Homo sapiens: one gene and its partners. The protein of the gene in region 1 purifies or fractionates together with the protein of each later gene. This does not show direct contact. Each region holds a gene or a part of one and is shown on either strand. Other genes may lie near its edges.

The links. Proteins that work in one complex are often made in the same cells at the same time.
Region 2: the proteins of SRP9 (region 1) and TRMT61A purify together in Homo sapiens (affinity purification with mass spectrometry; 2 studies listed by BioGRID and IntAct, with this or other methods). This does not show direct contact.
Region 3: the proteins of SRP9 (region 1) and NOL7 purify together in Homo sapiens (affinity purification with mass spectrometry; one large-scale study listed by BioGRID and IntAct). This does not show direct contact.
Region 4: the proteins of SRP9 (region 1) and EPB41L2 purify together in Homo sapiens (affinity purification with mass spectrometry; one large-scale study listed by BioGRID and IntAct). This does not show direct contact.

What each region holds. Positions count from the first base shown.
Region 1 is NC_000001.11:225,784,326-225,787,825, forward strand, and holds part of SRP9 (signal recognition particle 9 kDa protein), read left to right. Parts: intron 1-2,536; coding exon of another isoform or gene 2,537-2,644; exon of another isoform or gene 2,645-2,660; intron 2,661-3,500. UniProt on the Homo sapiens protein: Component of the signal recognition particle (SRP) complex, a ribonucleoprotein complex that mediates the cotranslational targeting of secretory and membrane proteins to the endoplasmic reticulum (ER).
Region 2 is NC_000014.9:103,527,764-103,531,995, forward strand, and holds the start of TRMT61A (tRNA (adenine(58)-N(1))-methyltransferase catalytic subunit TRMT61A), read left to right. Parts: upstream 1-1,432; 5' UTR 1,433-1,498; intron 1,499-2,186; 5' UTR 2,187-2,215; coding exon 2,216-2,546; intron 2,547-4,232. UniProt on the Homo sapiens protein: Catalytic subunit of tRNA (adenine-N(1)-)-methyltransferase, which catalyzes the formation of N(1)-methyladenine at position 58 (m1A58) in initiator methionyl-tRNA.
Region 3 is NC_000006.12:13,613,981-13,618,134, forward strand, and holds the start of NOL7 (U3 small nucleolar RNA-associated protein NOL7), read left to right. Parts: upstream 1-1,354; 5' UTR 1,355-1,378; coding exon 1,379-1,644; intron 1,645-1,731; coding exon 1,732-1,792; intron 1,793-2,482; coding exon 2,483-2,541; intron 2,542-3,789; coding exon 3,790-3,821; intron 3,822-4,077; coding exon 4,078-4,154.
Region 4 is NC_000006.12:130,841,047-130,843,245, reverse strand, and holds part of EPB41L2 (band 4.1-like protein 2), read left to right. Parts: intron 1-2,199. UniProt on the Homo sapiens protein: Required for dynein-dynactin complex and NUMA1 recruitment at the mitotic cell cortex during anaphase.

The sequences.
Region 1 (3,500 bases):
AAGCTCTGCCTCCCGGGTTCATGCCATTCTTCTGCCTCAGCCTCCCGAGTAGCTGGGACTACAGGCACCCACCACCACGCCCAGCTAATTTTTTTTTGTATTTTTAGTAGAGACAGGGTTTCACCATGTTGGCCAGGATGATCTGGATCTCCTGACCTCGTGATCCACCCGTCTCGGCCTCCGAAAATGGTGGGATTACAGGCATGAACCACCCCACCCGGCCTATCATCTGTTCTTAAACTAGCTCTTTCTCATGCCTGTAATCCCAGCATTTTGGAAGGTCAAGTGGGCAGATCACAAGGTCAGGAGATCGAGACCATCCTGGCTAACACGGTGAAACCCCATCTCTACTAAAAATACAAAAAAATTAGCCAGGCATGGTGGCGGGCACCTGTAGTCCCAGCTACTCAGGAGGCTGAGGCAGGAGAATGGCATAAACCTGGGAGGTGGAGCTTGCAGTGAGCAGAGATCGTGCCACTGCACTCCAGCCTGGGTGACACAGCAAGACTCCATCTCAAAAAAACAAACAAAAAAACTAGCTGCTTCTTCTGTTCCTACCTTCCTACCTTTAGTTGCATTATTTTCCACGTGGTCAGAAATCTGGGGATTTTTTTTAATTAAAAAAATTTTTTTAGAGACAGGATATCGCTATGTTGCCCAGGCTGGTCTTGAACTCCTGGCTTCAAGCAGTCCTCCCACTCAGCCTCCCAAGTTGCTGGGATTACACACATGGGCCACAGTGCACAGCCCAGAGTGATTTCTATTTAGACGGAGTCTCGCTCTGTTGCAAGGCTGGAGTGCAGTGGGCGATCTCTGCTCACTGCAGCCTCCACCTCCTGGGTTCAAGTGATTCTCCTGCCTCAGCCTCCTGAGTAGCTGGGACTACAGCCGTGCACCACCACGCCCAACTAATTTTTTTTTTTTTTTTTTTTAGTAGAGACGGGGTTTTCACCATGTTGACCAGGATGGTCTCCATCTCTTTACCTCATGATCCACCCACCTTGGCCTCTGAAAGTGCTGAGATTACAGGGGTGAGCCACTGCGCCTGGCCTTTTCTTTTTATTTGTTTGTTTGTTTGATGGAGTCTCGCTCTGTCGCCCAGGCTGGAGTGCAGTGGCGCAATCTCGGCTCACTGCAAACTGCCTCCTGGGTTCACGCCATTCTCCTGCCTCAGCCTCCTGAGTAGCTGGGACTACAGGCGCCCGCCACCACGCCTGGCTAATTTTGTGTATTTTTAGTAGAGACGGGGTTTCACCCTGTTAGCCAGGATGGTCTCGAACTCCTGACCTCGTGATCTGCCCGCCTTGGCCTCCCAAAGTGTTGGGATTATAGGCGTGAGCCACTGTGCCTGGACTTTTTTTTTTTTTTTTTTTTAAAGAAGGAGTCTGGCTCTATTACCCAGACTGGAGTGCAATGGTTCATTCTTGGCTCACTGCAACCTCTGCCTTCCGGGTTCAAGCAATTCTCCTGCCTCGGCCTCCCAAGTAGGTGGGATTACAGGTGGGCACCACCACACCCAGCTAATTTTTGTATTTTTAGTAGAGATGAGATTTCACCATGTCGCCCAGGCGGCTGGAGTTGAACTCCTGACCTCAAGCGATCCACCCACCTCGGCCTCCCAAAGTGCTGGGATTACAGGTGTGATCCACCACGCCCAGCCCCAGAGTGATTTCTGAAAGGCTAATTTGATTGTTACTCCCTTGCTTAGAAACCTTTAAACTCCACCCTTGCATCCTCTCTAATCTCTGTCATTTCTGTATTATGTAAGAGCTCCTTTAATGTGCTGTGATGTGTTAGGCCTCAGTGCTTTCAAACATTCTGTTTCCTCCTTTGCAATATTGAATCCCACCTCCACCCCTAATGTGGCCAGACTGCTGCTTATCTTTCAAAACCCAACTTGAGGATTACTTCATTTCTTGCTTTTCATTTTGGCTTTTTGTGCTGTATCACAATTCTTTTATCACATTTGTCTTTTTAATAGACTGCCCTTCAAGACAATAGAGATAGATCAGTAATATTCTTACATGTCTTATTTCCATTGCCTACTATGATGTCTTGACCCAGAGAGCACTCAGTAAACATTTTTTAAATAGTTAGTTCTTTTGAAAATTTTATAGAGTGATTTTAAAAATCACTTTTTGTCTTTGGTCATATATTGTATTTGTGTTCAGGGTTCCATTATGATGAGACTGCATGAAGTTAGACCTTTTAGTGATTACCATGTCTTCTAAGAACCAATTGAATGTAGTGAGTAGCTAAACATGTGGAAAAGGAAGAGTGAATCGAGATGTAGTATACTAGACATAGATTGAAGAGATGTGAATCCTAGCTTAGTCATTTACTAGCATTTTGGCCTTGGAAAAGTTTAGGCCAAAAATTTAGCCTTCTGGTCTCAATTTCCTCATCTGTAAAGTATCATAGTGATAGTAAAAAAATATATGAAAGTATCTAACATGAGTGCTTACCCTTGGTAGATTGAGTACATGTATTCTTTTGTTTGTTGATTGGTTGGTTGATTGCTTTTTTTTTTTTTTAGAGACAGTGTCTTGCTCTATTGCTCAGGCTGCAGTGCAGTGGCATGATCATAGCTCACTGCATCCTCGACCTCCTGGGCTCAAGCGGTCCTCTTGCTTCAGCCTCCTGAATAGCAGAGACTACAGGTGTGCACCACCACACTCAGCTAATTTTTAAATTTTTTTGTCAAGACAGGGTCTCATTATATTGCCCAGGTTGATCTGGAACTCCTGGACTCAAGCCATCTTTCTGCCTTAGCCTCCCAAACCACTGGGATTATGGGTGTGAACCACTAAGTACTTCTTAAATCTTGACATTCCACACAGAAAAATTTTAATTGTGATTGTCACAGAGTGGTTAGGTATACTTGCTGAAGAAAAACCCCTATGTCCTGTCTTAAAAATAGGGGAATAGGCCGGGCGCGGTGGCTCGTGCTGGTAATCCCAGCATTTTGGGAGGCTGAGGTGGGCGGATCATGAGGTCAGGAGTTCGAGACCAGCCTGACCAACACAGTGAAACCCCGTCTCTACTAAAAATACAAATATTAGCATGGTGGTGGGTGCCTGTAATCTCAGCTACTTGGGAGGCTGAGGCAGGAGAATCGCTTGAACCTGGGACTGGGAGGCAGAGGTTGCAATGAGCCAAGATTGTGCCACTGCACTCTAGCCTGGGTGACAGAACTAGACTCGGTCTCAAAAAAAATAAAATAAGGGAATAAATGCAGAACGAATTTTAATACAAAAGGCCTTATCTCCAATTGATGGCTCTTTTTGCCCTGTTAATGATTGAATATAATTAAGGATCCATGTTAACTTCGACTTTTTTATAATCCCATGTATCCATCATTTTTCTAATCCCATAATTGATTTAGAATACTGTCTTCTATGGACCTAAAATCTTTTTCTGTCAGAAATTTCAGTGAGAAGGTATGTACATTCTCTCATAGGACATGTGCTAAAATTTTGATGATGAAGATTAATATGGCC
Region 2 (4,232 bases), on another chromosome or scaffold:
GGCCAGCGTGGTGGCCCCACAGGGACAGGAGCCCACAGAGAGTGGGAGGCCATGGAAGGCCTCTCACCAGCTTACTCCTGGGGGCTCTCAGCCGCAGCTAGGGCAGGGACACAGAGGGGCTGAGGTTGGACCCCTAGGTTTCCATGATGGACCCTGAGAAGCCAATGCAAGGGCCACAAACAGCCTGGCCTGGCCTGCCCCAGAGGCGAGAGAGTTGAGAGTGCTCTACAGGCTGCCAGGGCTCCAGAGGGGAGCTCGCTCTGCAGGAGCCTGGCCACCTCATCTTACCAGGCTGGAGTGGCTGAGTGACTGGGGAGGGTGCCCTAGGGTCATTGCTAACTGGCTTGGGTTCGGGCGCAGGCTAAACCCTAGGCTGGGTAGGGGGGTCTCTGTTCCTCTCCAAGCTCTGGTCCTGAGAGCTAAGAGCTGGAGGAAGAAAATCCGTGTCCCCTGCCCCCGCTCCCCTGCACACACACTCCACAGAGGAGCCAGCTGGGAATGGTGTTGCTGAGACAGAACGCCACTCCCGCTTCCCTGTTCTGCCCATCCTCCAGCAGCACCTCCTCCAGTCTCCTGCCCAGGCTGCTCACCAGACCCAAAAGTGGGCCCAAGTCATCCAGTTCTCATTATGCCTTGGTTCGCAGGAGGGGACACAGGACCCCTACTCCCTCCTAGAAGCAGCTCTGCACTCAGGACAACGTGCCCCCGTCGGGGGAGGCAGGGCCTGGGCGGAAGGCCACTTCTGCAGACTTTTCCAGGCCCCCATCTGCTGCACAGAGCTCTGGCTGACCCTAGCCCAAGCCTTTTAGAACCGCCCCTTGACCTGCGATTCCTTTTCTGGAATTCATTTTAGGGCCCAGTCAGGGGTGTTCCCAGAGCAGTCTGCAATAACAAAATGTCTATGGCGAAGTGTCCTCATAGAGGACTGGGCAGTGAGCCACGGGCCAGCCCTCTGGTGAACCCCCAGGGGCCGTCAAAGGGGTCCGGGACAGCAGTGACAGCCAGGCCTTGGCTCCTGCCGCCCTTCAAATGTGCCTGGGTGCGACGGCAACCCGCGGCCGGCGGGGCGGGGGGACCTTTTGTTTGTTTGTTATTATTTGTAGAGATGGTGGGGGTCTCACTACGTTTCCCGGGCTGGTCTCGAACTCTTCAGCTCAGAAGAACCTCCCGCCTCGGCCTCCCAAAGCGCGGGATCACAGGCGAGAGCCACCGCGCCGGCCGGCCGCCATATGGATTTTGTCCAGTCTTTCGATCTTCCAGCGACCAGCAAATGTAAACAGAGCAGCTCACATGAGGGAAGAAGTCGCCCAGGAAACGTCCTCTGGGAGGGGCGGGAAGGGCAGCCTGGCGCTCCCAGGATCCCGTGCGCGGAGGGGGGGAGGGGGAGGCGGAGGCGGGGCGCGACGTCATCAGCGGGCGCGGAGCCGGAAGTGTTGTGGCCGCCGCCGCCGCGCGTCGCGGAGGCACGTGTGGAGCCCCGGCAGCAGGAGCGTCGCAGGTGAGACTCCGCGGGGTACAGGGTGGCAGGGCGCGGGTGAGGGTGACCCGGGCCGGGCACGGCGCGCAGGGCCTGTCCCTCCAGCCTCGCATGGGCGGCCCCCGCCGGCCCGGCCTGGCCCCTTGTTGCCTCTGCATCGGCTGGGCGGTGTTTGCGTGGACGGCCAGCTCCGCGTCCCCAGCCCCTTACTGGGGAGCCCTGAATCCTCTGTCATACCCTGCCACCTAGCCCCCGTGGGGGAGACTGGGGTGAGGAATCAAGCCTGGCTTGGAGGTGACCTCATTGACCATTTGCCTCTCCCCCGCCGGTGGACACCTCGCAAAGGCGCTTCCTCATCTCACATCTTGGGAATGGGAGTCAAGCTCCTGGAGAAGGGTGATGGGAGGGTCGGGTCCTCACTCCGGGAATCCTTGGGACCGAACTCCGCCATTGCCAAGCCTCAGTCTTTTCATCTCTGATTTAGGCTCATAGTCCCTGTCTCTTGTCCTAGACCAAGAAAGGCTTCAGAGGCCAGGCCAGAGTGCAGCGCTATTGGGCTCCCTGTCAGGCAGTGGCAGAGACTGAGGCTGAGCTAGCCACACCCCGCCCATGCCCACTGCTGGGATGTAGGCCTCGAAGCCTTCTACCTAGACCCTAGGCCCTCATCCTGCCTCCTGACTTGCTCATGCCTACACACACCCCTCCCCAGGTCCTTGGCCCTTGCCAGACATTAGCACCATGAGCTTCGTGGCATACGAGGAGCTGATCAAGGAGGGTGACACGGCCATCCTGTCACTGGGCCATGGTGCAATGGTGGCGGTGCGTGTGCAGCGTGGGGCACAGACCCAGACCCGGCATGGTGTCCTGCGGCACTCAGTTGACCTTATCGGCCGCCCCTTCGGCTCCAAGGTGACGTGCGGCCGAGGTGGCTGGGTGTATGTGCTGCACCCCACGCCCGAGCTCTGGACGCTGAACCTGCCGCACCGCACGCAGATCCTCTACTCCACAGACATCGCCCTCATCACCATGATGTTGGAGCTTCGGCCCGGCTCTGTGGTCTGTGAGTCTGGTGAGTTCCTCAGGCTGCCTCAGTTTAACGCAGAAATTGACACAAAGGTGGAGGTCAGAGCCTCCAGCCTGCCCTTCCTACAGACACATGTGGCTCCTCAGTTTCTATTTTCACATCTTTCCGGGATGCTGACAGCAGGGAGTGAAGGTGGAGGCAGAGAAGCCCGTTAGGAGGCTGGTGCTGTAACTGGAGTGAGAGGTGGTGGGAAATGGACCAGGAGGAGCTGGGGAGGACTGGTGCTCTAGTGAGGGTCCTGCTTGCCTTGGTGGGGCGTGGCCAGCTTGATGCTTGGCGCTGTCCTAGGTACTGACCGTCAACCTCTAGTCCTCCGTGCTGATGGTGAAGCAGAGAGAGTTGCCCCTTCTGGAAAGAGGCCAGGGCTACCCCGAGGAGCTCACTGTAGGTGGGGAGCCTTCCCCATCCTCATCCATGATCAGATCCTCACCTGCTACCAATGAATGTGAGCACCATTGTTGAGTCCAGGGCCTGGGCTGTGGGAACCCCTGCACATATACAGGTGCTGGGGCCGCCCAGTGTGGCGATTGAAGCCAAGATTGGCCCCAGGCGCTGATGCATCTAGGTTGTTGGTGGCGTGTTCCTCCCGGGCAGGAGAGCTAGGGTCCAGGTTCACGAAGAGTGCCTAGCACTGCCATGCTGGCTTTCTGAGGGCTGCAGGTCACCATGTCCCTCCCTGGGGTGTCTGGGTGGGAGGGGTGGAGAGCAGGACTTAGCCAACTCCATCAGCTGCTGCTCCTGTGCATCCTGTGGTGGGTGCTGGCCTCTCCGCCCCTGCCCCACTCTCGCGAGAGAGCTCAATCAAGCAGCACCTTCTCCTGGCCTCCTCAGATATGCCAGGTCCCCTCCTAGGAACCGTGAACTAGAGAGACCAGGTTCCTGCCCTCGAGGAGGGGGACACAGCCTAGGTGAGCATCTCAGTGCCGCTGGTTGCTGTGAAGCCTGTGAGACAGGGCTGCGTGTCTGAGGGGTACCCAGAGTGGGGACTCTCCAGCTAGGCCAGGCAGGGAAGACCTCTCTGAGGAGGGGACATTTGAGTTGAAAATGATGAGGAGGGACCTACGAAGAGCCAAGGGACAGCTCTGCACCAAGGAGGAGCCGTGCCGAGGCCCTGCAGTTGGAGCATGCTGCCGAGTCAGGCTCAGTGGGGGAGGCAGAGGGGCTGGGAGTGAGGTTGGAGGGGAAGCGAGCTCCACCCCGGAGGCTAACAAGTCTGACTTGCCCCTTAGTGGGAAGGGGGCATGGCCAGGCTTTGCAGAGGGGCGAGGCAGCAGGCTGGGGGCACCCAGGGGAGGGGCTGGACAGGTGGGGAGAGGGGCTGGCCCCTGAAAGGAATGTGGGAGGTGGCAGGACGTGGGACGGGATAGAGGGAGTGGAGGCACCTCCATGGGTCTGGCCCAAGCACTTGCGATGCTCAGCGCTATTTGGGTTCCAGGCATGGGTGGCAAGTGTGCAGTGGCTGCTCTAGCAGGAGTCTCCAGTGGAGGGGCCTGGGGATGGGAGTGGCATCAGGTAGATGGCCCCTGAAGCTGGAGTGGGAGGAGGGATGCAAGCCTTGACCCTCTCCATAAGACAGGAAGTCAAGCAGAGGGGCCATCTTGAGGGAAGCTGGGGAGGGAAGCTGGGGGCAGGTGCGCTGGGGAGGACTGGGGCCGTGTGGCTGGTGGCCAG
Region 3 (4,154 bases), on another chromosome or scaffold:
TTGTTGTTGTTGTTTTCAAGTTTTATCATTTTTGTTCCTATTTGGTTTTGTCGTTTTTAAATTGAGAATTGCTTCTAAAACAGAAGACATGAAAAGAGAATTAAAAATACAATATATGTGTAAGATAGAATTATTCAACTTAGCATTTATTAAACATCTACCAGATGATAGACATTAGAAATAAAATGACTAGCAAGACCTGGCCCTTCCCCTCAGGGGTTCACAGAATGGCTGGAGCAACTGTCATATAAGCTGTTATGAAGTGCAGAAACTACACAGACATTTGTGCGGGTTCAGACCAGCGCAATTAGAGATGGGCAGAGTGGGATGGGGTAGGGGTAAGGTGCTTGAAATTTGCCTGGGTGGGAATTTTTGAAGTATAAAAAGGACTTCTACCTGGGGGGCTGCGGCAGTAGAGGGAAGAGCACGGTCGGTACAAATGCATGGCAGGTGTGAAACAGTTTGATTTGTTCAAAGAATGATGAATCACTTAGTGTTGTATAATGGATGGGAGGAGAGAAACACAGCGATCACAAAGGGCCATGTTTGCCAAGAAATAAAATATACTTGGAAAAAAAGTACGTATGTGTATATACCACAAAACTCGGGTGCATTCTCTAGGGACCGGCGAAGCCATTCTTTCAGGAGATATGCTCAGCATTTGCCACGGGCCAGCTGCTGTTCCAGGTCGTGGGTTAGGGCCCGGCACCAGGAAGGGCGCCCCTCCCACAGGGCCGACATCCTAACCGGCGTCGCTGCGGCCGCGGAGCTGGGAAGGCCGAGGGCGCCGGGCACGTCTGTGCAGATTTCTTTAGAGTCCAGGTCTGTCGCCCGCGTCTTCGTCGGTGGCAGCAGGGCTGACTGGCCACGGCGGCCATCTGCTAGAGCGCATTTCTTCCCATGAAACGCCACCTCCTCCGAAGTGCGGAGCGAACGCAGCCAAATCTACACAAAGACTGACAAGCTGGATCCACTCGACGGAACCCAGGGCCAAAAAACGGCGGCGAGCAGCGCCTCGGGCCCGCGATTACCGGTTTTCTGAGCACCGGACAGCGTGAGCCGTGCCAGCCCTGTCTCGCCATCCCAGCCGAGGAGGGCAGCGCGATGGCTCTTCCCTGCCTTGAAATCAACCCCATTGCCAGCCGCTTTCGCCGGCAGAGCATTTTCCGTGGGGTCCATCCGGCTCCAAGGCGGCCTGCGCTGGCCACGTGGAAAGAAACACGCCCACTGCCTACAGGCCACGCCCTTCCTCCCTTCGCGCATGCGCCCCACCCGTCCTGAGGACCTCCGAACCTGCAGGGGGCGATGAAAGTAGGCTTGCGCTCCGCTTGTAGCTGCTTCCGGGTCAGAGGTCAGACGGTCTAGCGCTGCGTGGGCCATGGTGCAGCTCCGACCGCGAGCGTCTCGCGCCCCGGCGTCGGCGGAGGCGATGGTGGACGAGGGCCAGCTGGCCTCGGAGGAGGAGGAGGCGGAGCACGGGCTGTTGCTCGGGCAGCCCAGCAGCGGCGCGGCCGCCGAGCCCCTGGAGGAAGACGAGGAAGGGGACGATGAGTTTGACGATGAGGCCCCGGAGGAGCTGACTTTCGCCAGCGCCCAGGCGGAAGCGAGAGAAGAGGAGCGGCGAGTGCGGGAGACCGTGCGCAGGTTCGGAGCCCGCTGCCCGGCGGGGAGAACCGCCCTTTCTCGTCCCGCTTGTCCTTCCCTTTGCTGACTTATCACCCTTCCTCCCAGGGATAAAACGCTCCTGAAGGAGAAGAGGAAGCGACGCGAGGAGCTGTTCATCGAACAGAAGGTTAGAGGCTAGGGAGGAGGTGTCTTATTAAAACAACTCGGCTCAGGGAGAATTCCTATGGTGGATGTAATTTGGGTTGGCAGGATATTGGAGTGGGGAAACAGTCACCAAGATTGCCTCTGACAGTGGTGGAAAGATGCTCGGGCCGGGCGCGGCAGTACTTTAGTTGGACGAGGTGGGCGGAGCCCGGGATGTCGAGGCTGCCTGGAGCCGAGATCACACCACTGCGCTCCAGCCTGGGCGACAGAGCGAGACCCTGTCTCAAAAAAAAAAAGTTCGTCTCCTTTAGTGTCCACCAACTGAAAATAAGAGGTTGCTGTGAGAATTAAATGAGGTGATTTGTAAACTGTAAGGGCTGTACAGACTTAGTGTATGGTTGCTTTGCTGTCTGATACTCGACACAGAGAGCTGGCTCCAGGCAGACATTACTTAACTGCTTTCAATTTATAACAGTGACCTGAGGGTTAGAATACCGTGGGCACCCTTTCTAGTTTTCATCAAGTCTTTCAGAGAATGTGGAGTTTTGTGGACCCGGTCTTCCCATAGCTTAGAGGTATGGGGGCAGTTTCCAGCCTAATTCATTTCTTTGCCTAGATGTAGGGCATTCTTAAAAGCGGTAACTTCAGAAGCAACTCCGGACATACTATGTACATGACTTTCTATTAATTTTAAACGTTTTCATTCCAAAAGAAAAGAAAACTCCTTCCAGACACTATTTTGGAGAAGTTAACCACAGCTTCACAGACTAAGTAAGTAATGGATCTTTTTATATTACTTGCTTATATACACCCATCTTTGAATTATATACTGGTACATTTATTTGAATCCATATAACTGAAGGAATTGTAGAACCCAAATTCAAAAGCTACCTTGGTATATGAATTTGATGGGAAAGACGGAGGTAACGTTCTACTTCTTATTTTACCATTTATTTTTGTTCATTCCCATAGCTAGCTTTTGAATTCCTGATCCCATTGTGTTCATTCAGTACATTTTGTTGACTGCCTGTCATTGTACTAGGGCATAGTGGGTGGTGGTGAATAAAAAGTGTTTTGAATCATTTAGTGGGGTAGCAGGCACTTATCCACAGGCTCTGAAAACTTGATTTGTCCCATACTTGCCTTACCTGCCACCAACCTGTCCTTCCTGTTCCCCACTTCATTTAGCATCTTTGGTGTTTTATGGTTTAAAGCGAAAAGCTATAGTCGTCTTTGGGAATTGATCAAACCCTACTAAATTTAGCCTTCTAAATTTTTTTTTTTCTATCCTCTTTTTCTCCCCTTAAGGCTTTAAATTCAGAAATTCAGCCCCCTTTTGCTTAGGCCAGTGACTCTCAAGTTTTCAGTAAAAAAACTTTACCAAAGAGTTACTCAGATCCTGAATACATTAAACGTAAGAGCAAATCTATTTGGTGGCAAATTCCCTTTCATCTTTTAAAACCAAGCTCAAGTGTCACCTTTACCTTCTCATTTGCCCCCCCCCACCTCCCATCACTTCCGCTTTTGTGTGGCCTTTCTCCTGTGCAAATGCTTCTGTATTGTATTCTGTCCATTTACATTTCTCTCTCCATTGGGCCACAGCCCCCTTGAGGCTGTTCCCTGTCTCCTGTGCCTAAACTATTAAATTAATCCTTTGTGATTTCTCCAAATGAAATGAGGCAGACCTACTCCCATTCACTTCATATTTCAAATACTTTATAACTTGTTCTGAACAAGTGTTTCACTTGAACTCCATTGCCCACAGCATTTTGCTGCTTTGAAAGCCTGCTAATAGGCTCTCAGATTTTAACTGTGAAGATCTTCCAATGCTTGAGAGTTGGTGGCAGTGTACTAGGGAGTGACTATTGCTTTCCAAACTGATGAGAGCTCCTGAGTAGAAATTGAGGGTGTTGGTAATGAAAGGGGGTGTCTTACTTGTAAAGGCAAATGAAATAATATAACATGTTTTGAGTAATCTTTACTGCCATTGCAGTCAGTGGTTTTGTTTTTTTTCCTTAGCATCAAGAAATCGCCAGGAAAGGTGAAAGAAGGTATGACTATTCTAATTTAACTAACTTCTCATGTAAGTGTCAAGTGCACTTGCAGATGTTTCCAGTCAAATATGAATGGCCCTTAGAAAGCCAGCATGGGCCTGGCCAAGGTTAGCTGGGGCCTATTCCCTGTATTTCATACAAATAAAAACTGCATCCACATTGGTGTGTAGTGGATGCTTAAAGTGAACTCCAGTAAATTTCCTGATTTATTTTTACGTGAATGCTAATTAGAAAATGTAACTCTATTTTTTAGTTAATTTGCAAAAGAAAAATGAAGACTGTGAAAAAGGAAATGACTCCAAGAAAGTTAAAGTACAAAAAGTACAGTCT
Region 4 (2,199 bases), on another chromosome or scaffold:
TTATGTAGCAGTGACATTGGTGATTCTGTCTTTATCTTTTCTCTTTTCTAGCTCAAAAGCTAACTGTTTAGTACTTAGGAACGTATTTCTACATGTGTTTAAGTGCAAGAAACAGTCAAAAAAGATAAGTGGATATGTAAATAAAGTCTTCGTACAATAAGTTACTTCTTGTTCATCCACGCCAATAAGGAACTGGGATGTTTTGACACAATATCTAATAACTCAGAGTTAAACTTGATTTACTGATTTTTAAAGAATGAGAAAATAAATAAGTTTTAACATTAAAATGGCAATAAAATGATTCTGAAAGCTGTTTGGAATCCTAAGAGCACATGAAGGTTATCATTTATAATATTCATTACCAGAAAAAAAGTTTATTAATGGAAATAAATTACATTTTGAGTTTATTTGGGTAACTATGTCTTTTTCTCTATATTTAGCTCAGTAAATGTTGAAGTTTTTTGAGATCAAGATCCCTTCAATTCCAACATATGCTTAGTTTCCTGTAATAACTTTGAAACAAGTTTAATTTTAGCTTTTCTTTACAAATTTATGACTCATTACAAAGTGAAATTTTTATTTTTGATGAAAACAGATGCAAAGCAATAAAGTGACATAGGGCCTAGAGAAAATGGAGACTAGAATCCTAAACATTGTTCTCTCTGTAGGTTTTCAGGCCCTGATAGCATCAGGGGTTTGTTTTTTTAATAACATAAACTAGGCAAAATGGCAGCTGTGTTCAACAAATGATGCATATTTACTAAACAAAGCAAATGGAAATACCAGCTCTGAAGGAACAAGAACAGGTTCCATGACTGAAGGTGTCATATAACTGCCAAATCCAATTTGATTGGTAATTGTATCCATTTCCCTTCATCATCCCCCACATTTCTTTTCATAATTACTAACCTAAAAAAAGACTTTCTATTTTCTCCATTGATTTTTTTTTCCCCCAGCCTAGAATCAAACAGAAGTACTAATGAGTAATGAAATAACCTAAGGCAGACAACAGGGTAGAAAACAATGAAGTTGATTAATCAATCTGTCCTGAATAATCAAGAGGCTTTAATATTATCTGTGATAAATCTAAATGGTAGGAACTTTTTTCATTAAAGCAAGACTTAATTTTACCTAACCAAAAGAGTGTACATTCTAATTGACTTTGGGAGCAGTGTCTCTTGGAAAAGACGTTAATTACCACTCTGCACTGTCCTTTGTGATTACCTATCATTTGCCAAAACTTCCAACCAAGTTCAAATATAAAATGAAACAATTGCCACCTTAAAACCCTTTTCTCTTTCAGGGCCATTGCACCATCATGGGTTTTTTAAAAAGTCTTCTCCACTTACCTTTGATTGTGGACTTCTGCAAGACTCTGTGGCTTTCATTTATTCCTATGCTCACATGAGACTTAGTTCTATCTGTTGGTTTCACTTATCCCTTGTTCTGATGCCCAAATCTATATCCCTAGGTCTAATGCTTCACCCAGGCTGTAAGCCTTCATTCTCTCCTTTTTTTGAGGTCCCAGACTCCAAACCTTATCATCCTGTCTTATACTTACTTCTTAACCACCACACTCTGATTATTCTCCTTAGTGGTGCCTCTCAAATTTCTCTCCCACCTGATTTCTGTGGTGACCACTCAAGTCTGGGTCCTGGCCATCTGGCAGGAATGCCTGACATTTGTCATCTTCCTCATCCAGCTGGACTCCTGCACTGGTCTCCTGACTGTTGTTCCTGCCTCTACTCCTTGCCGGCTTCAGCTTATTCATCACACTGAAGCCACAGCAGTGTTTTCAAAACGTAAATCACACCATGACAAACCCTTCCTCAAAACCAAAGAAGAAACGATCCCAACCTCCTTTCCTGGGCTTATCATGCCCTGCATGACTGGCCAACCCCAAGTTCTTTGACCAGTCTTCTATCTCTCTGTGGCTCTTGCACTCTGCCCTGGACCATTGTAGTAGATTGCCAACTGGTCTTTTCGTCCAAATGTTTTTTCTTAATTCATTTTTTTTTTTTTTTGGTCAATTAGATCAAGCTGGTACTTCTCAGTCTATTAAAGAATAGACCTAATATTTTGTACCTTTATTTACTACTCACTATACCAATGCTCAACTTTAGTAATGTCCCTTTCTTCACCGTCCTATTCCTTCCATTCGTTTCTGCCTCCTCCCCCAACATACATCTTACTGTCATA